Linked DNA regions of Homo sapiens: all the other regions are linked to region 3. The links come from fine-mapping of genetic effects on gene expression. A gene starts in region 3. Each other region holds a variant in brackets. All regions are shown on one strand. Distances are between the middles of the regions.

Evidence for each region. PIP is the estimated chance that this variant, and not a neighbour inherited with it, causes the effect.
Region 1: its variant is the best candidate, but not a certain one, in a credible set for the expression of BMPR1B in pancreas (GTEx, PIP 0.61).
Region 2: its variant is the best candidate, but not a certain one, in a credible set for the expression of BMPR1B in sun-exposed skin (GTEx, PIP 0.65).
Region 4: its variant is the best candidate, but not a certain one, in a credible set for the expression of BMPR1B in gastroesophageal junction (GTEx, PIP 0.59).

What each region holds. Positions count from the first base shown.
Region 1 is chr4:95,016,205-95,021,540 of GRCh38, reverse strand. The region is part of intron 3 of BMPR1B (bone morphogenetic protein receptor type 1B); the gene reads right to left. Among named protein-coding and RNA genes, the nearest start is that of BMPR1B, 260 kb to the right of the region's middle. The variant T/C (reference allele first, on the strand shown) is at 2,785.
Region 2 is chr4:94,807,446-94,812,781 of GRCh38, reverse strand. All of the region lies in intron 1 of BMPR1B (bone morphogenetic protein receptor type 1B), which reads right to left. Among named protein-coding and RNA genes, the nearest start is that of BMPR1B, 52 kb to the right of the region's middle. The variant A/C (reference allele first, on the strand shown) is at 2,610.
Region 3 is chr4:94,754,823-94,760,158 of GRCh38, reverse strand. BMPR1B (bone morphogenetic protein receptor type 1B) reads right to left here and starts at 2,204. Exons shown (of 13, transcript NM_001203.3): 1 at 2,091-2,204. It overlaps BMPR1B-DT (BMPR1B divergent transcript), which reads left to right and starts at 2,626. Exons shown (of 3, transcript NR_121610.1): 1 at 2,626-2,765; 2 at 5,254-5,329.
Region 4 is chr4:94,853,901-94,859,236 of GRCh38, reverse strand. All of the region lies in intron 1 of BMPR1B (bone morphogenetic protein receptor type 1B), which reads right to left. Among named protein-coding and RNA genes, the nearest start is that of BMPR1B, 99 kb to the right of the region's middle. The variant A/C (reference allele first, on the strand shown) is at 2,155.

The sequences.
Region 1 (5,336 bases), 260 kb before region 3:
ATTTAGCTGTATTAACATCATGAAAGAAAAATAATAAGCAGCTAAAGTGTTTAATTTGGTATAATGCTATTGATTTCATAATACATTAACACCAGGTTTAAATTTTATTAAATCAGATGAACCAAAGCCTGAATAATATGCTAGGTTAAAAACCTTCTTTAAAATCTCTAACTTATAGCTACTCCACACCATGTAAATGATGCAAGAATTCATAAACACAAAAGTATGCAATAAGACAATCACTGCATTTGCACTGCATTCTTTCTAGGCCAAGTAAGTACTGTACTTTCTTCCATGTTGAATATAAATATGGTAGGAATTGAAAGAAAAAGCTACAAAGAATTTGTAACTGCTATTTCCCATTATATTTTAGACCTAGGGAAAAAATTAAAAATTAGGAATACGCTATTTGTTACTTAATCCCATACAACTCCATACTTGCATGCCCATATATGACTATTTCTTTCAGCGTATTTTCTTCATAAAGTCTCAAGCATCTTTGCAATCCAGTGATCATAAATAAGATAGCCAGACACGGTGGCTTATGCCTGTAATCTCAGCACTTTGGGAGGCAAGGCAGGAGGATCACTTGAGGCCAGGAGTTTGAGATCAGCCTGGGCAACAAAGCAAGACCTCATCTCTACAAAAATAAAATTAAAAACATTAGATGGTTATGATGGTATGTGCCTGTAATCCTAGCTACTCAGGAGGCTGAGGCAGGAGCATTGCCTGAGCCCAGGCTGCAGTTCAAGGCTGGAGTTGGAGGCTGCAGTGAGTAACGATCGTGCCACTGTACTCTAGCCTAGGCAACAGACAATAACGTGTCTCAAAACTAATAACAAAATAAAAATAAATTGGTGTTTCACCAGTAGACGGCACCATTTACGTAGGGCAAGTTTCTCAATCCCAGCAATATTAACATTAACATTTTGAGCTAGATAACTCTTTTTTTTTTTTTTTTTTGAGATGGAGTCTTGTTCTGTCACCAGTCTGGAGCGCAGTGGCGCAATCTCGGCTCACTGCAACCTCTGCCTCCCGGGTTCAAGCAATTCTCCTGCCTCAGCCTCCTGAGTACTTGGGACTACAGGCATGTACCACCACGCCCAGCTAATTTTTTGTATTTTTAGTAGAGACCGGCTTTCACCATGTTGGCCAGGATAGTCTCGATCTTTTGACCTCGTGATCTGCCCGCCTCGGCCTCCCAAAGTGCTGGGATTACAGGCGTAAGCCACTGCGCCCAGTTGATAATTCTTTTTTGTAGGAGACTGTCCTTGTAGTGTAAGATGTTTAGCAGCATCCTTGACTTCTACTCATTAGATCCTGGTGGCATCCCTACCTAGCAGTAAAAATAAAAAATGTCTCCAGACATTGCCAAATGTCCCCTGGGAGACAAAATTGTCTCTGGGTTGAGAACTGCAGATTTAAGGCAATGGGTTTTCATTTTAATTGCAAATTTAAATTAAGATAAATCAAGATTCTCTGGCAAGGTACAAATATAATCAAACTTTATTATTATATAATAAACTATAAGGTGCATAACACCCAAGCTTGTATAAATTTACACTATTCTCTTCAATAATAATTTTAAATTTTATCAAGGTACCAATATTGGCAGTAACTATTTCTGATTTTCCAAAAATATACCCCAATTAAAATATTTCCTTTCACCACTTGAGGACGATTTATTTTGATTTTGGTCTAACTTAAACAGCTAGGAGTAAGTACAGGAAGTTTTATCTGAAAAATGAACATGGACCAAGTCTTATAAATTGGCCCTAGTGCTATTTCCTATCATAGCTCCTGTTTGTTTACACTGGAGTCCTTATAAATTGAGTGTTATTTCCTTTCCACTAAGTTTCAAGGTATTAACAGCCAAGGAGGTGTTTTTCGACTTCTTCCTCCCTCCCTTTCTCTCACTTTCCACAAATAAATAATGCCTTGCATGGATCACAATTTTAAGACCAGTCCCCAAACTTCAAAACTACTAATACAGTGAACTGATTTTACCTAAACCCACCTTTATATTTAAAAACATAACAGTTTCTCTATAATGGAAAGGAACAAAATATGCATTCTCTAGTAGGTAACTTTACTTTCCAACAATATCATTTATCTAGTCATTTCACAGCTAAACCTTGCAAATTCTTAAGTAAAGCAGTTCCATTTATTTTGACTTCCTGCCTAGCCTCTTCCTTCCAGAGAAAACATTATTCTAATATTTTTATCCATTAAGTACTCTTAAAATTAAATGCCCCTATTTAAACAAAATTTGTTACCCTCACTCCAAAAATGAGGACGCTGGGCACAATTAAGGAGGCAAATGTTTTTCAGTTCTCTGGATAAAGTTATATTTGTCTAGTTTTAAAGAAGCATAGGTTATTTCCATTAGCGACTTCCATTCATGTGAATTACTACAACTACAGTGGTAAAACAAGTGGCTTTGTATGCAATATGAAGCGGTATTCGACAGTTGCAAAACTTCCCTTGACCAGTGAACTTCCAGTGAAAAAAAAACTGTTGAAAGTTCATGCACCCCAATTGCACATTCATTATAATTAAACAAAAAGATTACACAGACATTGCTGACAAGGATTATCAAAATAGATTGGCGCCACCTGCCCCTTGCTATCCCATTAATTAGTATGAAGTCCGAGGTGCCAATTAGCAAGAAGCAGCAGAAAAGGATCAGTAAACACAGCTCAAGCTGAACTTGAAGATTAACTCTTCCAGTTCAGGTTCCATTTCTTAACCACACTAGGTTGATTTGTTTATGCAACCCAAAAT[T/C]GAATCCTAGGCTGGTTTGTTTGTCAGTTTTGAAAAATAGTAGTTATTTATCATTAGGAAGACATTTCAGTTGTGTGAAATAATAATTCCAAAAATAACTGCACAAAAAGCTCATATAATTCCATAAACAAGTGGACACTCAGTATTTCACAGGGATGCAAAATACTTAAAAATCCAGGTAATCCAGTGACTAAAATGCTTTCACATTATAAATTACAGATCTGTGGTAGTTAATATTAACTCAGGGAAACAACTAGAGTACTGTGTGGTTAAGGGTAACTAACATCCCCCTAGCTACTAAATAGCACTTTATGGGCTAGAGCAATATTAACTTTCTAAAAAGCAAGTAGAGTAAATGGCTTCATTATTTGTTTTCTGGAAATATTATTAATCAGCTTTCAATTTATTCATTCTTAAAACAAACTTTCCAAAAACAATATAGGTATTTCCATACAATTCCCAACTCAATCCAAAACTTCTCTGTTGACAGCAACATTATTCTGGATACCTAAAATTACTTCCTTTAAGAACAGTATTGTAAAATGCAAATTATCAGCAAATTAAAATGTGAATTTTATAAGACTGTTGCATGTACATAAAATGATTAGCATGCATTCTTTAATAATTATTTTATATTTCATCACTAAATATTTCAGTTTAACCTATACATTAAAATTTGCTTTACTTAATGTGAACTGACTTTATTAAAAAGATAGTATTATCGCTTCTCAGCCTTTTGGCTAGGATCAAGCATGAAAAGACAGTATTTTCCTCAAACTTTAGAGAGGAATTTTGCCCACAGAAACCTTCCGAATTTGTTTACCCATTTCACAACAGTATTTTCTTTTTGATGTTGACATAAAAGCATCTTATCTCTCTAGAGTTTCCACAACTATAGAGCAGGTGTTCTCTAACAACACTATCTACAAATCCTGAAGAATAAAATGTAGACTCTTTGCATTAGAAAAAGATATATACCAAGGCCATTTCAAGACCCAAATTTCCCAGTGGCAGTACAGTATACACATTGAAAAATGGGAATAACAATCTCAGAGTTGCTGAGAGAATTAAACCAGATAACAGGCTTAAAGGAAAGTTTTTAGGGCAACACTGAAATACTGATGAAATATTGAAATACTGATGCTAAGTGCCAAGATTCATCTGTCTAGGAAACACCTCAAACATTACCTGTGACTGACAACACTCTTAACATCTAACTTTGTGGCACACTGGGGTGAAGCCCAAGAACTGAATGTTTAAGAAACACACATGGTGATTCTAACACAGGCCCCATATGGCCCACACTAACATTGCTTTTAGATATGAACATGCAGAGGCCACATACATGCAAAAAAGTCCCTCGTGATGCAGTAAGAAGACAGGTGGAGAGAACAGGGTAGTGGCTATGGGATCAAAGTCAGATAACCTTTCCCAAGGCAGCAGTAGTTCAGCACAGAATTCACACAAATACAGGAATTATACACTGGAACCTGGCCTTCCAACTTCAGTTCGTTTGAGAAACTGAAAAGAACAATATTGACAGGAAAGAGAGCTGCTTGCATGGCTTGCTGAAGAGTGAAAAGAAACCTTGCAAATTCCTCACTTGGGCATCTTCTGAGAAATCTGAAGAGTGGGGTTAAGGAAAGAGTACACAGTGGATAAACAGCTGAGTCTTCGTGGGGAGGAAAGACCCCCACTCATAGAAGGAAAAACAAAGTGAATGTTTTCCCTATGGAAAAAGAAACTGAAGGAGCAAATAAAATAACTATAAATCTTTTCTCCCTACTGTTGTCTTGTCTGACCAATGCTGCTGTGTCTCCCTATAATAAATCATAGTCCTTAATGAAAAATGACAATTACACTGAAGTTGCACTACCCACAGTTACTTGGTATAAACTGTTGCTTTATATAGTTACATATATTGTGGGTAAGATGGTATACTTGTCAGGGAAAGGGGACAAATATATTTTTATTTAATTGCATGTTAGCTAAATTTATAACTTTTAAATATCTTGACATATGGTCTGCAGTTCTCCATTTGTACTCTTGCCCTGGACCCCGCAAAAGTCAGGAGTAGATGTGGAAAACACTTCGCAAATACTTTGTTAAAGCCTTCCATCTTTCTCCTTCTCTTGCCATTCTTTTCTCTTATCTCTACAATCTATAAATAATTGCAAAATAATTCAAAATACCTGCAATATTTTAACATCCTTTTTAGATATTATGAATATTCTTCCTTAATACTACTCCCAAATTCAAGAAGTGGTAGTTTCTCAAAAGTTTAGTTGCAACATAGATTTGAATCATACGAATAAAACATCTGTATGATGACATTACAATCTATTCTATTATCTTCTACTTTGAATGAATCTCTCATCCATGCATAATTTTGTAACATCATGTGTTGATCACTGATCATTTGAAAAATATCAGCCCACTGAGTTACGCAGAACTTTCAAATGGTAACACATTTCCTAATGAAGTAACAACAAAAAAAAAATCACACTTGTAATATCTGGACCAATGTCATCAAAAAGGATTTTAAATATTTA
Region 2 (5,336 bases), 53 kb before region 3:
TCACTTTCAAAAACCAACTAACCCCCCAATTCTAGCAATTCCACCTGTGAACTCTCTCTCCTGTCCATTCCGTGCTCCCCCTCCCAGGGACTGCCCTCACCCTCTCTCCTCCGTCTCTAGTCTTTTCAACATTTACACATCATTTGCAGGGCTAACAGGGTTATCTTTCTAAAATTAGAGATCTGATTATCTCATTGATATAATGAGATATAAAACCCTGCATAGCTTCCCAGTGCCTACAGAAAAAAGCAAAAGGGTCTCAGTATGGTCTGTCACGCTAGTCTGATCAACTGGGACAGGTGCACATCCCATAATTCCTCCATAAATCACAAAATGTCTACCTTTTTGGAATTCCAGCATCCAAACCAAGTCATGAGCTTTCAAAGCTTTCACTGCTCTACTCATGCTGTTCTTTGTCTTGAATACTCTAACCCCTTTCCATTCCAGGCAAATACCCATTGATTTTTTCAAGGCCAAGTGGATATGTTATATTTTCTCTTAAAACTTCACAAAGCCTCTTAAAACATACTAGGCTGTTGCTCCTTCCCTGCTTCTTCTATAACAGTATGAAGCTTCTCCTCTAACTGACTTTAAATTTTGGAGGACTAGGTACTAAGTGAATTAATCACATAGCACATAGTTAATGCTCAATAAGTGCTTGTTTAATGAATAAGAATATAAAACAATGTCCTCTGGCAAGCAGACCACATAACCTGGAAGAAAAAGTCTTCAAACATTCTCTAGATATTGTTTCTATCATTTCTACAACATAAAATTTTTGAACTATAAAAGTTAAATATTTTCACATTTTCAAGCTGCAAAACGACTTTATGGGGACCCTTTACATCTCAAAACCTATAAATTCTATGAAAAATAAATTTCCACATCGCAGAATATGCTAAAATTATGTTTATATGGAAATACTGGCACGATATTTCAGGAGAAAACTTTTTTTGGCACTCACTCACAGGGAGCAATAAATCATTTCCTTCTGCAAATGAATGTTATTGTGGGTGGGCCTTTCATACAGAGAAAATATTTGGATTCAAAGGTTCCCTCCCTGGCATTTGAGAAAGTTGTCATGACCAAGGTATCGAAGCTTAGCAGTTCTTTAAAACTTAGAACTTAAACTCCGGAATTTTGTACTCAAGCATTTGTATAAGCCTGATTTTTTAAAGGGCCATCAATTCTCTTAATAATCATCCTAGATCAGAGTATAATAATTATATTGAAGTCATTTTATTCACAAATGCAAAGAAATAGTGATTTAAGAAGACTGAATTGCAGCTGATTACAGCTATTCGAGCAAACAGCAGGACTACATTCTTAGTCTTTTGCAGTTAGGTGATGACCTATGCCTCAGCTCTACCTAATGAGATGTGGGCAAAAATACATGCAACTCCTCCAGGCCTGGCCCATGAGAGCCTCCAAAGTGCAAATTCCCTGCTCTTTCTTTGCCTTCAGTAGGTTTCATGCACATAAGTACAATGGAAGCCATACATGAAAGATGGTGGAACCATAAAATGAAATTAGCCTGGGTCCTTGCATTGCTAATCAGCCAGCCAGCTATTGGTCAGAAAACCTGTTCTGGACTTTATGTCAATGAGAAATAAACTTCTATTTCTCCTAACGGTTAATTGAGCACTACACATTTTGAGATACACCTGCTATGCAACATGATATTCTTGTTATCATGACCAAATATAGTCACTGAATCAGAAAATTAATATGAGAACACTAATTCATCATTCTTTATTGTGCTATGTTTTTCTCAGTTCCATTTCACAGGGAATCAAATAAACGTCGTAACTTATAACCAGTACATTTTCTACCCAATCTAACACTGTGTTGTGCACTACACACATACACATGCACACACGCACACATGACTGATGAAGACGCTTGATCCCTTCTTTAAAGAATCATGCCAAACTAATCTAATCAGTATTAACTAACTCTCTAATATGTGCCTGACACTGAGGTAGCCACTCAACACCAAAGGGTGAAAAGGACACAATGCACCACAGCAGGATTTTATACTTGGCTTATTTCTTCTCTGGCTTCAAGAAACACCATTTAGTTTGTCTTTATAGCAGAAAAGACTTAAATATGAAGTGTATTTTGGATGTTTTGAGACCATACTTTTTCATTTAACTTGGCTCTACCTGCCACATAAAATATAAATCAAATTGCATTTGCTTTGTCTGTGTGATGAAATGTTTCATGTAAGCTCACATCCCAATCTTGCTGTATTCTTGTCCTCTGGGCAACAACACAAGTTACTGTAAGTTTCCATTCCCACATCAAATTTACACTTTCTCCCCTTGCACCGATTTTTTAATTCCAGAAAATCATTATATACTCCCCCAAGAAATAGAAACAAAAATGATCTATTCAACCATTGGTAATATGTGGTTACATACATATTTATAGTGTTGTAAGTTGTTTTCAAATTTCCACATATTGCTTAGTATTTTGAGTAGATTAATATGGCACTCACCAAAGACAGGATATAGCCAATAAATGTTAAACCAATTGTAGCACGTCTCTAACAAAAAACAGTAAAAATACTTCGATGGGCTTGAAAGCAAATAATGCCAATATGTGGA[A/C]TGCTAAGGGAATATGCTCAAAAAGCTGTATTTCTTGAGAGTGGATAGATAGCAACAGCCTACATAATTCTCTCTCCTTGCTCCTTGAGAGTAAATATGAAACAAAAAGGACTGTGCCATTTGGATCTTTGTCAATTGCCAACCCATTTAGGGTCAAAAAAACTGTAAATTCATCTACTGCACTATAGTTTTAGACAACTGTGCAACAACTAAGAGGTGACACTGAACTGTATACTTTCTTTTTTCTAAGAATTCAGATTCTAGAGTGAAATCACAACTGCCATCTAAGGCCTCTCCTCAGGGTAAATGCTGGACTCTACTACTTTTGCCTCAAAACTTGGGATACTGGCAGAGGCCAGATAGATGTTTTGCTTTGTGCAAAAATTTGTTCCCTACGGGAGCAAGCTGTAGAAAGCTAACTGGTATGCTGAATCCTTCAAATTCTTGTCCATTGTTTCTGAAGAGTGAAACAAATGTGTTTTAGAAAAAGGATTGTTTCTCTTTTCTACACTTTGGTGGGGTGGAGCAGTACAATGTACACAAAAGAAAGAGGGAGATAAGTGAATAGGAAAAAAGCACTTAATGAGAATATTTAGTACTAAAGAAGAAAGCAGCTGTAGTGAGTATTTGTTGTGTGTACTCTCTGATCAACAGTTGGCATAATCCTCAGATATCTGAAAGTGATATAATCTGAAGCTTATACATGGAAAAAGGAATTGGCTTCACATTTCGCAGAGTAATAGTAACCTTGTTTCTAACTGACCTTGTGTTCATCTTATTGTGGCTAAACAATTTTGTTTAAATGTAAGAAATAACGGAGTATTCTAAGTACAGCATAGTTTGATGATTAAAAGCATTTTAAAATTATAGTAGTATAAAGGGGATGAAGCAAGAAACTGTTCAATGATAACAATTTTACATGTTCTACCTACATTCAAATACTCAAGCAACAAATATCTATCATGCCCTCCTCATGTGCCTACAGCCCAGTGTGACTCTAAAATTTTGATTAAAATACCATAAAAGTGACCACAAACATGTCAGTGACCAAACACATTTATAAAGGTCCAACCGTAATAATAATCAAAGAACTGTACAATTATTATTATCTTTTTCTTGATACAGAGTCTTGCTCTATCGCCCAGGCTGGAGTGCAGTGGTGCAATCTTGGCTCATTGCAACCTCCAGCTCCCAGGTACAAGCAATTCTCCTGCCTCAGCCTCCCAAGTAGCTGGAACTACAGGCAACCCCCACCACACCCGGCTAATTTTTGTATTTTTAGTAGAGATGGAGTTTCACCATGTTGGCCGAGCTGGTCTCAAACTCCTGACTTTGTGATCCGCCCGCCTTGGCCTCCCAAAGTGCTGGGATTACAGCTGTGAGCCACTGCGCCCAGCCTGTAAAACTTTTTTAATTATTAGTATATTAACAAAAACTTTTGGAAATGTAAGAAAGGCCAATGGCGAAATAAAACAGAAACTTATACCAAGCTAGTGTTGACAAAAATAAGCATAATCCTTTCAGATTCTAGTTTTGAAAGTGCATATCTGGAATCTCATAATGTAGATACTTCTTTGAACCATTAAAATTCACTTCCGGCAACTAGCCTAAAGCAAAACCATAACCATACAAAAAGCTGTATGACCAAAATTGCTCATTTCAGTATTACTTCAAATAAAAAACTGCAACCAAATTAAACATCTCACAGTGTGGGAGTGGCTGAGTAATTTACTGTATTAAGCAGGATCTAACATTCAGTAGCCATTAAAATTAAAATTATGTAATGTTGCTATATTATCAAATAGTAATATAATAATTATGACCAATCTAAAATATGTATAGAGAAAAAGGTATAGACTAAAATACCTAAAAACTACCAGTTGTTTTCTTTAGGTAATGGGGCCATGGGTAATTTTTCTTCTGTCTAATTTTCCATAAATCCCACATTTTGTATATTGAGTATCTAACATCTGTTAATTAGAAAAAAGTATTAAGTATATGAAAGAAAATGCAAAAACATTTAAAATAGCATTCAGAACAAATCTGGTATCCATTTAAGCTTTAAAAGGCTACAAAGTAACAAGTACACATAATAGCAAAATAGAGATTTACAATTTATAAATATTTTAAGTACAATGTTGCACTGGAAAAAAAAAGTTTTCATTATTATTTTAAATGCTGAAGCAGGCCAGCATGGTGGCTCACCCCTGTAATCCCAGAACTTTGTGAGGTCCAGGCAGGTGGATCACTTGAGGCTAGGAGTCTGAGACCACCAGCCTGGCCAACATGGAAAAACCTCGCCTCTACTAAAAGAACAAAAATTGGCCAGGCATGGTGGCAGGCGCCTGTAATCCCAGCTACTTGGGAGGCTGAGGCACAAAAATCTCTTGAACCCGGGAGGAAGAGGTTGCAGTGAGCCAACATTGTGCCACTGCACTCCAGCCTGGGCGACAGAATGAGACTCTGTCTCAATAAAAAGTAAATAGATGCTGAAGCAATATAAAACAAAGCTCAATTAAACATATTGCTGGACCTAGACTGAATTAACTTTCTATTCTCCACAGTTTAAAAAACTTATATTCTCTCCAGTTACAATGTTTCGGGTGTGGCTGAAACATTCAAGTGATTTGCTATAACCATATTTCACTACTTAAAGTTAAAATTATTATTAATTACTAAACATTATCAGTAAATTGATTTACAACAAAAAGTACATTCACCATCTTT
Region 3 (5,336 bases):
CAAGATTTTAACTCACCAAAAACTAACATTTTGATTTAAAAACACAAATCAGTGCCATTAAAATTCATCAGCGGCCCCTAGCACATGAGTAATGAGATCATATCAACTTATATCATGTAACTAAAAGGAAAAGGTGGTTTTCTAAATGGTAATTCAGATTGGACAAATAACACACTGTATCAAGTTTTGTAGCTCTAGGCCATATTTTGCTAAACACAAAGGTACATTATGCATGACTAAAGAAAACAGTGAAAATCAGAGCAATTAATTTCCCAGCTATGTTTCCCATAAAAAGACATCACTACTATGATCTGCTTATAACACAAACTTTTTTGCATTGCACAATGATCTAAGTGTGTAATAACTTACATATTTCACTAAGATGTAACATCCTTCAAAACATCCTTATAATGAAAGTTTTCCAAAAACATTATTGATCACCGGCATGTCTCATGTTTTAAAATTACTGACGAATCCTTTACTATTTTCTTTACAGCTAGAAATAATTCTTCTTGATCACTAGAGTGTAAAGGGGTATAAAGTACAAAGACTGAATATTTTCTTAAATACTAACATCCCAGTTGACACAGGACATTTCCCATAACTTGCCCAAAACAATAATTAGGAGAGTTGTCACTGGAATCCTAAAAATATATGTAAGAAAACAGAGATTCGTTGGCATCAATTTAGCACAGCAAGAGATTTCCATTAAGTGCTTTTTCAAATTATTTGCAAACACTTTTTAGCTGAACCCTCTCATTTCCAGTGGAGCCTTTTATGTTTCTTTGCAGAACTCAAGAACCTTTTCTCAGGTGGCTCTGCTTTGCTGCAGGTAAGTTTGGTATTAACACATTTTCTTTATCTGTTGGAGGTAGTGAAACGGCTCTCTTCCTCCGTTGTCTTTCACTGGCACCTTTGTGGCCGCTCGTAGTCACTGACCTCACCTTGCTGGAAAGGTGGCTAAGAAAAGAGCAGTTTCTAATAACTCAAGGGAACTGCAGCGTTTCCATTCAGAACAAACAGCAGGACCCAGCTGGAGGGGTGCAGCTCTAAAGAAGTAAGACCCGCACCACAGCGGACAACTTCCAGAGGCTCTTCTCCAACACCGCCAAACACAGGCGGAAACACGGAGCCTGGACAGAAAGAGGGACGAGCAGAGAGATGGGCGCAGAGAGCAAGAGACAGGGGAGCCAGGAAGACCGGGAGCGAAAGCCTCTTGAGAGAGAGAGAGAGACCAAAAGATTGTGCGAAAGTGACAGAGGGAAGAGGATGAAGGGACAGAGGAGGGACACACTGGGAGAGCCAGAGCAGGCGGTGGGGAGAGGGAGACAGACGCACGGAAGGAAAGAGAGACCGGGGGGAGAGGCAAAGGATAGCAATAAGGAGAGGAAGGGAGAAAGGAAGAAAAGGGAGAGAATGAAAGACCCAGAACTTGAGAGAGAGGCATAGAGAGAGAGAAGCAGGAGAGAGAGGAGAAGAGACAGGCAACTGAAGCAGAGACGGAGCCCAGTCCAAGGCGCCGGGACCAGCCCGCTGCGCACTTTCCCCCACGGCAAGGCTGGGTCTCGGGAGGCGTCCGGGGCAGGTGGGTGCCTGCGGGTCCCGCCTGGGCTGGCCCTGGGCCCCCGCCCCGCCGGGCTCCCTCCCATTTCCCGGATTCCGCGACTGCCCTCAGCTCGCCCTCCCGCCCCATCCCTCCGCTCGCAGGTCCGACTCCCTGCCTTGGGGCGTCCCTACAGCCCGAAGCACGTGTCCCGCCCGCCGCCGCCGCTGCCCCGACTCCTCGCCTGCGCAGGCACGAGGCCTCGGGGTCCCGGCAGAGCCGCCCGCGCACAAAGCCGAGGCGGCCACCGCCTGACCCCCTCCCCGCCGCCGCCACCGCCCCACGGCCGCGCAGCCCGCCCTCGCTCTCGCCCTCTCCCTCGCGCGCTCCGTCCTGCCTAGGGCGACCGCCGCCCAGCTCCGCACCCAGCCGCTACCCGTCCCGCGCCGCCCCTCGCTCTGCCCGGCTCTCGCCGGCTCGGCCGCCTCCCGCGCGCTCGGGAACTCGGCCACCCGCAGGGGACGGGGCCCCGCCGCGCGCGCCTTACCCGCGGCTGCGCTCCCGGCTCCCGCGTCCTCAGCGCCGCGGTCTCCGCACTGCCCGGCGTCCCGCGAGGCCCCGCCGACTCCGCGCCCCGCGCCCGGCTGCGCCGTCAACTTCTGGCCGCCGCGGCCGCTCCGCCGCCGCCGCCGCCGCCACCGCGGGACTTTTTTTTTTTTTTTTTTTTTTTTTCCCTCTCGCTCCTCGGCTGCCTCTGGAATTTTTTTTTTTCACTTGCCCTCTCCAGCTCCCACTAGTGATTGGAGACTGAGAGCCAAGTACTTAGCGGAGGGATTACACTTCTCAACGCACTTGGAGCGGCCCCAGCGCCGCCGCCTGTGTGCGGAGTGCGGAGCCGACTTGGGGAGCGGCGGGGTGCGGGCCGGAGGCAGCCCGGGTACAGGGGTGCGCTTCCCAAGCCCCGTCCGCTGCTCAGAGCATCCCCAAGATTTCCCTCATGGGTCCTGTCCTGGTTGTTTAAGAAGGTTTCCAGAAAACCTCCTGGTTTGAAGAACAAAGATTCGTGGAATTATTGTACCTTGAGAGCTGGAAAGGGCTCGCAGAGATGATATAATGTCGTGGATTTCAACTTTTCGGGGCCATAGACACTTTTCAGAAATTGATAAAACGTTGACACACCTTGTAAAAAATGAACACATTAAAATTAAGCCTGCAGTTTGAGGTGGGGGTTTTAAGAATCTTGAAATATATACAGTTGAGCGTCCAAGGGAAATGAAATATTTCCCTTCTACATATTTTTTGAAACCGTTAAACGAAAACAACCACCAAAAAATTAAAAATAAAAAAATAAAACCCAAAAGAGAAAACCCATTCCATTTGTATTTGATGACAGTTTACAGTTAGTCGTGTTTCTTTTGGAAAAGTATGTAACGTCTTATACTTTGTGGTCTCCTTGCTAAGTCTTTAAGTGTTGAAACACTTTCTAAGTGGGTAAATATAAAGTAAGCTAGTTCACAGTCAGAAATTTGGGGAGAATAGTTAACCTCTTTAAAATCAGCCATTTTGCCAACTCTATTTCCCAGGGAGATATCTCGTGACTTCCAAATACTCTTTTCCTTTCAATACCTTTCAGCTTCCCACTCTCCAGCATTACTTATTTTCTCCTTCTGTAAAATTTTTTTCCTCCAAAATATTGACAAACAGTCTCTGGTCACCACCAAGTGTGTGATCTAAGTCATTTTTTTTTTTAACAGTTTTTCACCCTGAAGTAACTTTCTTCCAATTTTCTTCATATCTATTTCTATATTCAATTCTTAGCCTACTATTTTCTTTCAACTACTCCCTTTTCTTAAATTGTTTCTATTAAATCTTTTTTAAACATTAAATGTAATCTTTTTGCACTTATCAATAAAAAATTCATTTGTGTATCAATTTATTTTATGCAGCTTGCACTTAAAGCAGGCGGTGCCCCCAGTGTTTATTGAGTGTATGAAGATGTGGTCATGTTTTTTCTATAAAAGCAATGTTAGAGTCTCCACAAAGGTCTTTTTGCCCCATGATATATCTGCATTGTGATTTCTAATGCCAAACTGGAAGAAGAAAGGTATCTGAAAGAAAATTTCCAAAACAAGTGAAATTAGTCATTGACATCATCTGACCTTCCTTATTCAACCACTGTTCCAGTCCCCAGTACCAGTACTCATCCTCTTGCCCCAAGAATTCCAAGATAAAATCCATTCATTTTACTCTCATCCCAATTCTTCTCTGATACCCTCACTCCCACCCCTTCCCTTTTCCACCTCCTTTCTTTCAAAACAATAAAGCATATGACTACCTAAATTACCTTCTACCTGGTCCTCAATCCAATTTTTCATCATCTCCATCCTCATATTAACTAAGTGTTTTGTGGGGAGAAGGGGGCTTGAAGACACGGAAATTATAACTTCTACACCATTAAAATAAAAGACAAAGCAAGGAATTATGAGCTATTATGTAATTAACTAAAAATAATAAATTATCGAAAATGAAATGTGAGTTTAGAAATATGAGTTTTAAATATTGAAAATAAGATACCAAATTATAATTCATTACAGAGCTTATGATTGTATACATAGAAAAGCTTAGAGAATTTACTGGAAATCCATAGAACTAAAAATGTAATGTGTTGATCATTGTCAATATCTCATCAACATTAAGCAAGTTTAAAGAGGAAAGAAACCTGATTGAATCTATCCTTTCTACTGTGTGAATTACTGATAATTTGTATTTGACAGCTGTATAATCTCCCTTAGAATTGGAGCACTCATAAACTGCAGTGAAATAAAGCAGACATTATGCAGAATGTTTTGGAGCTAGTGGTATTGTCACCTGTATCTTTTCAGAAGTTGCACTAAGGATTATCTTTCCTTGGCTTAACTCCTCCATTCAGCAAATATCCTTCAGAGAATCTGCTGGGTATAAGATACTGATTCAGGGAATACAGGCATCTCTGGATAGAGAAGACACAGATTCCACTTCAATCAACTTGCAGACAAGGAGACAGATTTTTTTAAATACCTTGTTTAAATATATTTTTTAAAATTCCAAATCAGAGAACAAAGGAAATTCCTGTAGGTCTTTGGGATGAAAAAAAAAAAGCACTCCAGGTGGGAGAAAATGGGGTACAGGGGAAACTGTGTTTGAGGTGGGCCTTAGATGGTAACATTTCTGTAAGCAGGAATGGGGAGCCTTGGAAAGAAGCTATTCAAAAATCAACATTTTTGAGTGCCTATGACAAACCAAGTCCTGGTATTTGAGAGGCAAACTCTGTCCATTCCTTCTTGAAACTCATAATACAGAAGAAACAAGATACTTAAAAAATATATAGAACTTTCTATGAGAAGTGCATTAATGCATGAACACACAATTTTTGGAGCATAGAAAAATGAACTATTCTGCCTAGAAATCTCAGGAAAACCTTCCTAGAGTAGTCACATTTCATAAGGGTCCTGAAGGATCTTTAGAGATCAAAGCGGGGCTAGAAAGAGAATAAACATCCTAAGCAAGGAGAACCCTATGAAAAAGCATGGCGTGTTTAGAGAACAGCTGGTATCTCAGTGCTGCTATCCAAGTGATGAGGAGAAGGTGCAGCAGATGACTCTCTTAGGCTAAGCAGGGTTCAGAAATAACCTTCTCAAACATACTAATGAAATTGATTTTTTCCTTATTAGGTAATGGAGAAGCACTGGAGATTTGTAAGCCACGGAGTCAAATGGTGGACTGGGATTTTCAGGAGATCATTTAGAGGTACCTG
Region 4 (5,336 bases), 99 kb before region 3:
ACTTCACTTTACAACTTACAGTGAATACTACCCATTCTAACATAAAGAGTGGCCTCTTGAAGCTCAGTTCTCTCATCTCCCAATTTAGTTGGCTCTAGACAGTCTGATGGGACAACAGTTCAAATTCTTCAAAAAAGGCAAGCATCTAAATCACTTCCAGATCTGCCTCTGATAGTGTAAAAGTCTTGCATTAATAAAATAATTAAGGCAATTATAAATTATGTTGACATGCTTATCTATTAACATAATTGCAAAAACAAAGGTAGTCATCTCTAAAGAAAAAGAGAAAATAGAACAACAATGTAAACAAAAATTCCTTTGGACTTAATCTCATCTGTGAATAATTAGAAGAATTTAAGTGGATTTGGAAGGGGTGGTGAAAGACTGAGGAGATAGGATTACAGTGTCTTTCACTTTGATGTATTAAAAATGAAGTAGAAGTTACAAAGTTTAAACACACATACACATGCACACACCCATACCCTTCAACCATCAACAGCAACTAGCCTACCTGCCCCATTTTTCATTTGATTGGAGTTAATACAAATAACAAGAGTTGTATTCAAACTTTGATTAAAACAAAATGAACAGAAAACAACTATTTTCACTCTTCTTAGACTCAAGATAACTCTTTCCATTTTTTGGTCTATTTGAACTAATTTACAGTTCAGGAGAAACTAACTCATGTATATCACTAAAAATTTGGTCAAAATATCTCTTGCCACATCTTAAAATAAATGCCTAATCCAAAATTCTATAATAGAAAAAAATTATGGCATGAATTCCATCAGAAGGATGGTTCCATTTTATGTCTTCTAATGACTAAGTTTTATAGCCAAATTTATTTTCTATATTTTTTACTTGCTATATATTTTTATAACAAAAGCATTGCATTTCTATTGAAATTCTTGTTGAGGAAAATTCAGGAGTTACATACAAGCATAAAACAATTCTATTCAGTGATCATTTTAAATTATTTGGTGTATTGGCCAGGCACGGTGGCTCACGCCTGTAATCCCAGCATTTTGGGAGGCCGAAGAGGGCAGATCACGAGGTCAGGAGATCGAGACCATCCTGGCTAACATGGTGAAACCCTGTCTCTACTAAAAATACAAAAAAAAAAATTAGCCAGGCGTGGTGGTGGGCACCTGTAGTCCCAGCTACTCGGGAGACTGAGGCAGGAGAATGGCGTGAACCCTGCAGGCAGAGCTTGCAGTGAGCCAAGATTGCGCCACTGCACTCCAGCCTGGGCGACAGAGCGAGACTCCGTCTCAAAAAAATAAAAAAATAAAAATAAAAAGTAAATAATCTGGTGTATTTACTTCCATTTTACATAAACATATGTTTTTCAAAAATATATTTTTGTCATTAACACATTGTTTTCTAAACTGATATTTAAAGAACATTCTGGGAGATATTAGTATCTATTCCACTAAAAAAAGTGTTGTATTGTTTAAAATAGGTTTAAGCAAATTTAACAGATGTCTTTTTGAGGACATCTCAGAGCCTATAATGAGCTAACACTTATTATGCTTTTTCAAGTAATAATAAATGACCTGGGAAGTAAGTCATAATAAATCTGGGTAGCAAGCAGCTTCCCAAATTTATTTCCTACTTAATATATTTATTCTCCTTGTTCATCTGTTAGCTTCTAGCTTGGGAAATGTATAAAGTACATTATATCGGAAGGATATTCTTACATAAAATTTTGTAAACTAAAATTTTTTAAACCATGATTTTAAGGCCATAAATTATTACATCTAAATATCTTATAGTCCACTAGATTTTTTCCAAATTCTGTTGTCATTTTATATAGATCTTACTATATGTGTGTAACTATTCATTGAAGATAAAGTGCTAACCTTCTACAGAAAATGGTACAAAACTGCCTAAACGGCTACATATTTCACATAGCACCTTTTCACTGAACTTGTATCAAAAGTATGTTGTCATTTGCTTAAATATTTGTTAATTTGGCACATTTTCTTAAATATTTGTTAATTTATTTTAATTTGCATTTATTTGCATAAGAGTAAGGCCTTTTTTTCATATTTTATCAGACATTTGCATTTATCTTTCTCAGACTGGATTTTAGTTCTCTCTCCTCCATACTTTTTTATCTCATTCTTTTCATTTCTTGATCCTTCTCTTGAA[A/C]TCTGAAAGAGTTCCTGAAGCATACTCTTTACTTCAGTTTTTAAAATCATGAATTCTTTCTTGCCCCCTCTGCAGATTTGTGTCCAACCCTGTTTTAGTGTTCCTTGCAATCTTCCCAAACCTTTAGAGAAGCAGTCTGTTCTCCTTAGAGCTCTTTGCTGAAGTTTCATAAATATCATATCTTCTACCTTCTGTTATGCTAAACTGTTTTCTAAGTGTTCTAGTCATTACAAATATTTCAAAAAATGTGCTTTCCTCTTGCATCTTCAGGATGATAGGCCCTCACCTGGCATAGTTTTCTAAATTAGGTCCCAAGTTGTTTGCCACCTTTCTACTGCCTTTCTGTAATGATGACGGCATCTACCACAAAACAGTTTGGCCTGCCCATTATGCCCTTAGCTGATTATAGACATCCCTTTTCAATGCTATAGCAAGAATGTAGAAAGATATGAAGAGTTAGAAGCCCAGTTCTCAGTGACTGTGATACATTCATTTAAAGCTGGTCTTCTGGACTGCAGCAGGACCTTCTTGTTACATATTGTTAATCAGCAAAAGGAGCACTTGAAAACTAAAATGCCTACCATTGAGTTCTCTGTCCCCACCTTGAGCCCTTTACAGGAGGAAACCCCCTCCTTTCAGGATGCAGTAGTCAGCTGCTCCCCCTCTCCCAGGTTCTTGCTGTTTTCTATGACTTACGCTGCTAGCTGGCTGGAGAAAGACATAAGAAGAGAATAGAGACATATGGAACAGGAGGTCAGGAGGCGGCATCAGTGATGATAATGCTACAGCATCCTCAGAAAAACGGCACCCCTGCAGCAGATGGAGGGCTGCCCAGTTTTCTAGCTGTTAAAAGATCATGGGTCTCTGAGCAAGCAGCAGATCTTATCAAAAAAACAACAACAACAAAAACTACCTCTACATTTCTTACTTTGGATAGCTGGGTTTTCTTTTTCATGAGACAATCTGTTTTTTTCCCCAGGCCAGCTCCTTATAGGTGAAAGAAATGCATCAAAATTTCTAGCAATTGTCAGTCTTTTTTGTTGTTGTATTCCCCCTGGGCCTTCACTGGTCTTTTAGCAGAAAACTGGAAGAGGCTGTGTTAACAACTGCAAAGTTATTCGAAGTTTTATTTTATTTTCATTTGACAAATACTAACTGTACACATTTATGGGGCACACAGTGATGTTTCAATAAATTACTGAGATTTAAATAATCAATTCAGACCTCTCTAAAATTTAAATGTAAGTTAAAATCTGATTATTTCACTTCCAAGCACAAGAATTTGATTAACTCAAATAACTTTATTTTAAATAAATTTATTAATGCTGAAAAGAATAATACACAGGAGACTAGAAGGCACTGTTTATCTAGAAGTCACAAATATCACCAGTGGCAGCAATGCACATTCCTTTTCTTCAGTGGTAACTGGAACCAGAAGACTTAGAAACAGGCTTTCCCTTTAGTTGAAGTTGAAGGTGATTAACAAAAAATAAGCACTATCCTCTGTCTTCAGAGTTTTAATTATCCCGTATTTTTGTTACGTACATGTTATGTTATTTTAAAAGAGATGGGAAGAGCTTTTCTGAAGGTCTATGTTAGACATAGTTTCATAGTGATGAAAAACATCTGAAAAGAGTCATCGGCACACCAGTGCAATTTAGAGCAAATGCTGTAGAGTCCGAGAAACCTGAGTTTAAGTCCAGGCTCTACTATTTAATAGCTGTGTGACCTTGAGCAAGATAATTAACCTCACTATGGCTCTGATTTCTTTTCTATCAAATGAAGATATTAATAATGCTTGCTTCATCAGATGGTTATGAGACTTAAAATGAGAGAGAAGGCAAGTAACATAATAACTGTTAGATAAGTGCTCTATAAATGTTTGGTGTTCTTATCCCCCCACATATTATAAAATAAAATAATCTCAATATGAACCAGAATTCCTTTAAAGAAGGATCCTTTAAAGAAGACTAAAGGATCTTTTTAATAATCATCCACAGTGGTTTGTTAGAACTGATAATTTGTTTACAATTTTTTTGCACCTAGATTATTATGGTTGGTGCCATCCAATATATGTTAGGCATATTCTGGAATAAAAGAATGTGAATCCTTTGTCCTTATTGATTATATTTCAGTATAAGAGATGATAATTGAATAGACTACAAAGAAGGAAAAAAGAAAAATACTGATGCTTTAGAAAATAGCCCTCAAGTTTAAAAGCTTACAACCCTAGAGCAGAGGTTCTCAAGGGGATCACATAAAGAGTAGCTTTTTGGAAAATAAGTTATCGCATTTTTGGCTTGCACAATGACTAGGGAGCATGTCTTTCTTTTCATGGGCCAAGAATAGGCTTGCTAGGTTTACTGCAATACAGGAGACTGTCCCAAACGAAGAGTTTTCATGGGTCCCTCAAGACTCTTGAATGAATGGCTGGACTCATGAGAGTGAAAAATATGTTTAATTATCTCAGTCTAGAACCTTACTGCATTTTACATATAAATGCATAGTATTTATCAAAGATTTTAAATACATACTGAATTCCAAGAAGGCAACAACTACATAAATCAAGAGATTTGTGTTGTTCAGAGCCTTGTCACCGTTATCAAAAACTTGCATCCACAATCTCAATACCCCTTGTTGTTTCTGAGTCACTGATACAACAAAACTTTTTCAGCCTTCATTTGTAAATATGCTGTTCATAGTGGTGCTACATATAAGTACAAGAATCTATCTACTTCATTATTCTTATTATAGTCATGTCCACATATTTCCATATTCAAATTCATTATTTTTCAAAATGCACTTCTTAAATGTTTTTATAAAATTATTTTCATATAATCTCTCCTTTATATTAGGGTACAATTACAGTAGAGCATCATGTCCATTTTTTATCATTTCAGGATACGAAAGGCCTTATTCAATAGATGAGGCATCTTGGGGCTTGCTAGAAGGAATAGAGAGCTTCACAGTAGTCCTCAAATATATGAAGATAGCCCAGGGGAAATGCAAATAATTCAAACAGTTACTTTCCTTCAACTACAGATTGAACAGGAAATAAGTTTAATTTGCAATAAGAGGAAGGTAGGTTAAGTACTCTGATCACCATCCTGAAGAAAAAGGCTGTAAAATCACTGGAATGACTGAGAAATTTCTGATCAACATTTCTAAGCCATTTAAGAATG